Linked DNA regions of Homo sapiens. The protein of the gene in region 2 purifies or fractionates together with the protein of the main gene of each other region. This does not show direct contact. Each region holds a gene or a part of one and is shown on either strand. Other genes may lie near its edges. The genes, in order: PLCG2 and LAT2.

Region 1 (3,808 bases), on a different chromosome or scaffold from region 2:
ACTAACTTCCCTGGGAGAAAAGAGAATCAGAAGGGGAGATGGGAACAGGTCTGGAATACGAGTTGCATCTTCCATCCTCCTGGAGCGTGGATGCCACGGCCACAGCCTGAGGTCTCAGCTTCACTGCCCAAGAGATGCCTTCCACCAATCACAGCCGGGCAACAACTCAACACTTCCTTTGTGGATTTGAAAGCAGGTGTTTCTCCTCTACTGGGGAAATCTATCCAGAAGTTCATTACACATCCCCAGAGCCCAGAACAGTGCCTGGCACAGGAGAGGCACTTTACAAATATGTAGAGGGCAAGGAGAAGTTGCTGCAGACCTGTGTTCCCCTACTGCCTGGTCCAAATTCCCCATCCGTTTCCCTGGAGAGCTACTCACCCTCCACCACCCTGCCTGACCAATCCCTTTGTAGCACTCATCACAAAATACTACACTGATTTCCTTATGTGCTCAAACCTCCTCAGTGCTTCTCAGTGAAGGACAGTGACGCTTCACCCCATACCCTGACCAGAGAGGGTTTGAAAAAGTGTGTGTCCTGGGGCAGGGATGTTATTTTTGATTGTTACAATGACTTAGGGTCCCAGACAGACATGCAGTGGGTAGAGACCAGGGAAGTTCAACATCCAAATACAACAGGATCAGTCCTCACACCCCAACTCTTTGAGAAACACTGTGTGGACTGAGCTTCCCTGACAGTGGGCCATGGGGTGAGGTGGGGAGCGGCCATCCTTGCTGATTGATTCACTGAGCCAGCATTCACCAACCACCAACTACATCCCAGCCAATGTTACATAAGCAGGAACAGGTCAAAAGCAAGAAACACTTGGAGTAAGGCGATGTCTCTCATCCCTGCCAGACCATTAGCCTGAGAGAGCAAGGACTGGGCTGTTTTTATCACTCCTGCATCTCTGGAGCCCAGCACAGGGCCCGGCACACAGTAGGTGCTCACCAAACATCTATTAACTTCTAAAAAATAAAAACTTCCATTCTCAAGACACCTCCAATCTCATGGGGAAGACAAGCTCACAAACTGAATGGGGCGTGTATGTAAGTCAGGCAATCAACCTGAGGACCCACCCAACCTCTTCATTCACGCGGTCCCATTGAAGTGACCCCAACCCCATCCCCAGATGGCCTGTCAGAATCATGCCACCTGGCTCAGGGAGGGGGCCATCCTTTCTGCCGGACACTGTCCTGGCAGCCCAAGGTACAGCCACCTGAGACAGAAGCTGATGGAGAGTAACGCCAGCATGCACATACAGGTGGCATCCTGACCATCATCAGGTGAGGCCCCGATCCGGTTGTGTCAGAGCTGTCTCACCGCTTGGGCACCTCAGTTTCAGCCAGTTGGGTTTAGTTGCCATCATTTGCACAGGATGACAGCACAGTGGGAGTGCCAACACCCCACCTGGGGCCTGGCACACAGCAGGTTTTCAATCCGTGTGCAGCGGACTGAACACACCTCCTCCCCATCCAGGCTGAGGAGGTACCACTAAGAGGCTTAGGGGAAAGAGCAAAGGGCAGAGGCACCAATGCTGAGAAGCCCAGGTCACCCTCTTGGGAACAGAGAGTACAGAAAAGCCATGCTGGTGGGAGGCTGCTCTCTGGCTGGAGCCAGTACACAGTAGGTCCTCAGTAAACTATAGTGATAATGACCGTCACCACGGTCCCCAGGGAGGTGGCTCAGGCATAGTGGTGCAGGCAAGGAGGAAGGGAAATCCAAACGCCCAGGGGGCAGCCTGGCAGGGTCACCAGGGGATGGGATCAGGGCAGAGGGAATGGGGAGAGGAGTGGACAGGGGCAAACCACACACCCCACAGTAGCTGCCATGCAGCCAGCACCACCGCGCCCATGTGGAAACACAGGCCCAGAGCATCCACTGCCTCCCATTTTTCACAAGAAGCAATCTGAGTTTTTCAGTGAAATTTCTCAGTTTTTCACATCAGTGTACAAAAGACGCCCACAGGCCTCTGGCTGGAGATTTGGCCCCCAGGCCTCTGGCTAGAGACTCTGGAGTGAAGAGCTTAGGCTTTGGAGACGGACAGGCCTGCATCTGAACCTCAAACTCAGTTGACTATGAGGCTGTGTGACTCCAGGCAGGTCACTTAACCTCTCTGGTCCTGTTTCCTCCCTTGCAATAACTAGACCTACCTCTCACAGGCTGTAGCAAAGGATTCAATCAGATGAGGCCTTGAAGGCAGTCCAGTGTCTAGAACACGGTTAGGAACTCAACATATAGCAGACTGTTACCACCGTAAGAACATGCAGGGAAACCCTGGGGCTGGGGAGATGGAGGGACAGTAGGCTACACGGAGTCTGAGTCACTCCTCGGCTCCTTGTCATTAGTGGAAGTGGGAGAATCTGGCGTTTTGGGGTAACATTAGAGAACCACAGGCCTAGAGGTGGTTGGGCAGCAGCTGCAGTTGGGAGGAAACCAGATCTATATCATCACAGGCCTGGGCTGCCTGGGCTGTCTGGGCTCGAATCCCAGCCCCACCACTTAGTGGCTGCATGCTTCAGCAAGTTACTTAATCTTGCTGTGCCTCAGTTTCCTCCTCTGAGAAACACGGATCATGGTCATGTCAACCCCACAGAGTTACTGGAAGCCAAAGTGAGTTACTACAGAACATCCTGCCCTGGAGAACGCAGACTGTGCCTGGCACGCAGGAGCGCACATTCTCGCAGCGGCTTTTGCTGTGGTGGTTGTTGTTGTCGCTGATGCTGGGGGGGCAGGGCACTGCAGGTGAGCCTCCACCTGAAGTTCCCCCTTGTCTCTCCGCATCTGTCCTTGCCAAGCCCCTCTGTAGAGCATGTGCCTCCCACCCTCGCACCCACCTGAAGGTGATGGCATAGGAGTCGCTCCCCTCTCGCTTCCGGATCAGGAAGGCCCCGTCCCGGGGAATCCTCATCAGCATGTCCTCTGCCTCTCCGCGGCTCAGGCTGTCATAGTACCACCTGCGGCACAGGGCCAGGGAAAACGACCAGGTGAGCGGTCTCCAGGCTGTCAGTGGGCCACCCGCAGAGGACAAGATAATGGCACCAGTGACACCTGGAACCTGGCCCTGGAAACGACCATGGAAATCACACAGTGGGCTTCCCCAGACAAAGGCACCTCAGCAAAGAGAATTTGTGAAAAGAATAGTGGAAGACCCCAGGGGTCTGTTTCAAGCCCAAAATAATACATTGGGCCGAGCACAGTGGTTCACACCTGAAATCCCAGCACTTTGGGAGGCTGAGGCAGGAGGATCACTTGGGGTCAGGAGTTTGAGACCAGCCTGGCCAACACAATGAGACCCCCATCTCTATAAAAAATAAAATAGCCTGGGCACAGTGGCTCACGCCTGTAATCCCAGCACTTTGGGAGGCCAAGGCAGGTGGATCGCGAGAAGCCAGGAGTTCAAGACCAGCCTGACCAACATGGCGAAACTCTGTCTCTACTAAAAATACAAAAATTGGGCCAGGCGTGGTGGCTCACGCCTGTAATCCCAGCACTTTGGGAGGTTGAGGCGGGTGGATCATGAGGTCAGGAGATCGAGATCATCCTGGCTAACACGGTGAAACCCTGTCTCTACTAAAAATACAAAAAATTAGCCAGGCATGGTGGCAGGCGCCTGTAGTCCCAGCTACTCAGGAGGCTGAGGCAGGAGAATCACTTGAACCCAGGAGGCAAAGGTTGCAGTGAGCCGAGATCATGCCACTGCACTCTAGCCTAGGCAACAGAATGTGACTCTGTCCCAAAAAAAAAAAAAAAAAAAAAAAAAGGAAATACAAAAATTAGCCAGGCCCAGTGGCGTGCGCCTATAAT
Region 2 (3,808 bases):
CAGTGAGCCAAGATTGCACCATTGCACTTCAGCCTGGGCGACAGGAACGAAAAAAAAAAAAAAAGAAAAAACAACCTTTCTATCTCCCTCCCTCCCTCCCATCTCATGCAGTAAAACCCCAAGTGCTGGCCCTGCCTGGTCAGCCTCCCCACCAACGGCCTCGACCTCCACTAGTTTCCCCTCACCTGCTCCTCCCTGGCCCCTGGCTTTGCTCAGACCTGTGGGGCTCACTCCACCCTGGGGCCTCTGTTGTCCCCTCTGCCTGGATGTCCTTCCCCCAGATGGGGTGAGGAAGGGAGCTCTGAAAGGCTTCCCTAGCCGCCTTCCTTAAATTGCAACACTGCGTCTTGCCCACAACCCCACACTACTTCCTGCCCCGCTTCCCTGTTTTGTTTCTCTCTGCCAGACTTACCACCAGTGAACATGCCATGTCTTCTTATCTGTTTTCTTGTTGTTGTTGTTGTTTTGACAGGGTCTCACTCTGTCATCCTGGCTGTACAGTGGTACAATCATAGCTCACTGTAGCCTTGAACTCCTGGGCTCAAGCGATCCTCCTGCCTCAGCCTCCCAAGTAGCTGGGACTACAGGTACACACCACTATGCCCAGCTAATTTTTAAATTTTTTTTTTGAGATGGGGTCTTGCTCTGTTGCCCAGGCTTGAGTGCAGTGGCACGACCACAGCTCACTGCAGCAACCATGGCTCATTGCAACCTTGACCTCCCAGGCTCAAGTGATCTTCCCACCTCAGCCTCCCAAGTCAGTGGGACTCTAGGGCATCCACCACCATGCCTGGCTAATTTTAAATGTTTTTATAGAGGCTGGACATGGTGGCGTGTGCCTGTAATCCCAGCTACTTGGAAGGCTGAGGCACGAGAATCGCTTGAACCCAGGAGGTGGAGGTTGCAGTGAGCCGAGATGGCGCCACTGCACTCCAGCCTGAGTGACAGTGATACTCTGTCTCAAAAAAAAAAAAAAAAAGTTTTTGTAGAGAGAGAGGTCTTGCTATGTTGCCCAGGCTGGCCTCAAACTCAGAGGCTCAAAGGATCCTCCCGCCTCAGCCTCCCGAAGTGCTGGGATTTATAGGCATGACCGCTGTGTCCAGCCCTATCTGTTTTCTCTCTCCTACCAGAATGCAAGTTCTAAGGGGTCAGGGGTTTGCTGTTCTTTATGTTGGTGTTCCCAGCACCTAGAGCAGGACTTGCCCGTAGCAGGGGCCCAGTGGATACTGGTTGAATGAATGACGTGGGGCTCTGCACATTTGGCTCAAACTCCTGCACCTGCCTCTGGGGCTGACTCTTGACCACCCAGGTTCACTGTGGTTTCCACCCTCCAGCCTGCTCGCTGAGATGACGGCCTGGGTCTCCCAGATGGGGACTTTGGGCAGCCTTCAAGGCCCTCTGGGGGTCCATCGTGCTTCCCAAGCAGTAGACCCAGCCTAGGCTTTGATGTCTGATGTCTGACCACTGGGGATTCCATCTCCTCCTCCCCTTACTTCAAGATGTGGCCTTGGGCAGGTGGCTTAACTGCTCTGTGGCTTTGGGTGCTAAGAGATGGTGCACGTGTGAGCGCTTAGCGCCGCACCATCTCACTGGCCTGCGGTGGCTCCTCAGCGCGTCTCAGCCACTGTTACATTTCCCAACGTCCCTGCCTCCTGTCTGTTTCCAGCATTGACCGAGTGCCTGCTGGGCTGAGGCTTTGTGTGCAATGTCTGTTTTTTTATTTATTTATTGAGACGGAGTCTCGCTCTGTCACCCAGGGTTGAGTGCATGTGATCTTAACTCACCGCAACCTCCGCCTTCAGGGTTCAAATGATTCTCCTGCCTCAGCCTCCCAACTAACTGGGACTACAGGCACCCACCACCATGCCTGGCTAATTTTTTGTGTTTTTAGTAGAGATGAAGTTTCACCATGTTGGCCAGGCTGGTCTCGAACTCGTGACCTCAGGTGATCTGCCTGCCTCGGCCTCCCAAAGTGCCGGGATTACAGGCGTGAGCCACCGTGCCCGGCCGTGTGTGCGATGTCTTCTCTGAGAGGTGGGCACCAAGTGAGGAACTAAGTTCTGGGAGGTTGTCACTTGGTCCAAGGTCGCAGCCAGGAGGATGCAGTGGAGTTGGGAGACCCACCCGGTGCCCACTTCTTTGCCCCTGAAGTCACCAGAATTCCCTGCCTGACGCCCCTGGCCAGAACAGAGGAACAGAGTCGCCAAGCTGCCCTCTTGGAGCACCCATGGGTGCACCCTGTAGCCCCCACCATGGCCCCTCCACCCACACTCTCGGCTGTTCCCTTGGATTGGGGGTCCTGCAGCTTGGCAAGACCTCCAATCCTTGGCCCACGGCAGCTGGAGAGCAGGGGCTGTACCTTTCTTCTTGGTCTGCCCTAGGCTTCTGTGGCTGCCACCTCCCCATTCACGTAATCCGGTTCCCCGTCCTCCTCGTCTGGGCTTCCCACCGGGCCAGGGGATGCTTCTCTCTGGAGTTGCCCTGTGGACCAGCGGGCAGACAGGTCATCGAGTGGTTCACATGGAGACACCCATGACTGCTCCCCCAGACTCAGACCCCCAGACTCCACAAAACAGCCCGCGGGAAATGCCACGCCCGACAGGTCCTGGCGGTGTGTGTCTGTCCTGTCTCTGGGATTTGCCGGAGATCGTCCTGCTGTGAGAGCAGGTGAATGCGTTACTCCATGCATGCAGCTGGATGGGGCGGCCTGCCCGGGAGGACCTGACCCCACCCTGGAGGCTGGGCGGCTGCCAAGGGCCGTCCTGTGTGGTTCAAGGTCTCTGCAGCTGCTCCTGCACCCAGGCATCACTGCGGGGTTAGCTGGACTGGCTGGAGGGAAGCCCACTTTCAGCCTGCCCTTCCAGGCCAGTCCCTCAAGCCTGCCCTAAGTGGACCACCCTGCCTCTTCTCCCGGCCACCTACCCATGACCTTCCTGGACTCGCGCCACTGATGGATGGATGCTGAGTTCTGATAATCCTCAGATTCCTCATCTTCTTCCGGGGAGGCAGAGGGACAGAGACCAGAAGTGGGGCCAGTCTTCAGGGCCAGTGACAGGCTGAGGTCCCCTCTGCAGAGGCCACCTATGCCCTCCTGCTGGGCACCTGCAGAGAGGGAGAATAGGCCCCCCTTGGCTCAGTCCCACAGAGGCACCAGGAGCCAATAGAGCTGCCTCCGAGGATAGTAGGGGCAAGGCTCTACCGAAAGGTACCTGGGGATCCGAGAGCCTTCAGGCTTCAAAGTGGGGGCGGCCTTTGAGCAGTGGGGAGTGCAGGGGCACCTGGCCAAGGAGGCCTGCTGCTCCCAGCCCCAGCCTGCCTCTGGCTGGGCAGCCTCACCTGTCTCTGTGGTTTTCTGCTTGCAAATGAGCACATTCTCGTAGGAATTGGCATCATCATCTGCAGGAGAGAGAGGAGTGGGCACGGGGGTGTGGGCAGACCCTGCAAAGCCTGGCTCATCCTCCCGCTCTGTCCTGCCTTCCCTTTGCAGGGGACCTCTTCCGCCAAGCCCTAGCCCTCTGGGTCCCCCGGGACCTCAAGCCTTCTTCTGGATGAGCTTCCTAATGGGTGCTGGCCTGGTGCCCCTGCATGCTCTTCCCTGAGCCCTGAGCTCCTCTGTCTTCTTTGTTTCTTGTTGAGACGGTCTTGCTCTGTCACCCAGGCTGGAGAGCACTGGCAAAGTCAGCTCACTGTAGCCTCCAACTCCCGGCTCAAACGATCTTCCTACCCCGCAGCCTCCTGAGTAGCTGGAACTACAGGCATGCACCACCACGCCCAGCTAACTTTTAAAATTGTTTGTAGAGAGGATCTC

Evidence for each region.
Region 1: the proteins of LAT2 (region 2) and PLCG2 purify together in Homo sapiens (affinity purification with western blotting, with the first as the bait; one study listed by BioGRID). This does not show direct contact.

Annotation. Positions count from the first base shown.
Region 1 is NC_000016.10:81,911,747-81,915,554, reverse strand, and holds part of PLCG2 (1-phosphatidylinositol 4,5-bisphosphate phosphodiesterase gamma-2), read right to left. Parts: intron 2,959-3,808; coding exon 2,839-2,958; intron 1-2,838. UniProt on the Homo sapiens protein: The production of the second messenger molecules diacylglycerol (DAG) and inositol 1,4,5-trisphosphate (IP3) is mediated by activated phosphatidylinositol-specific phospholipase C enzymes. It is a crucial enzyme in transmembrane signaling.
Region 2 is NC_000007.14:74,223,312-74,227,119, reverse strand, and holds part of LAT2 (linker for activation of T-cells family member 2), read right to left. Parts: intron 3,397-3,808; coding exon 3,337-3,396; intron 3,103-3,336; coding exon 2,923-3,102; intron 2,482-2,922; coding exon 2,378-2,481; 3' UTR 2,360-2,377; intron 1-2,359. UniProt on the Homo sapiens protein: Involved in FCER1 (high affinity immunoglobulin epsilon receptor)-mediated signaling in mast cells.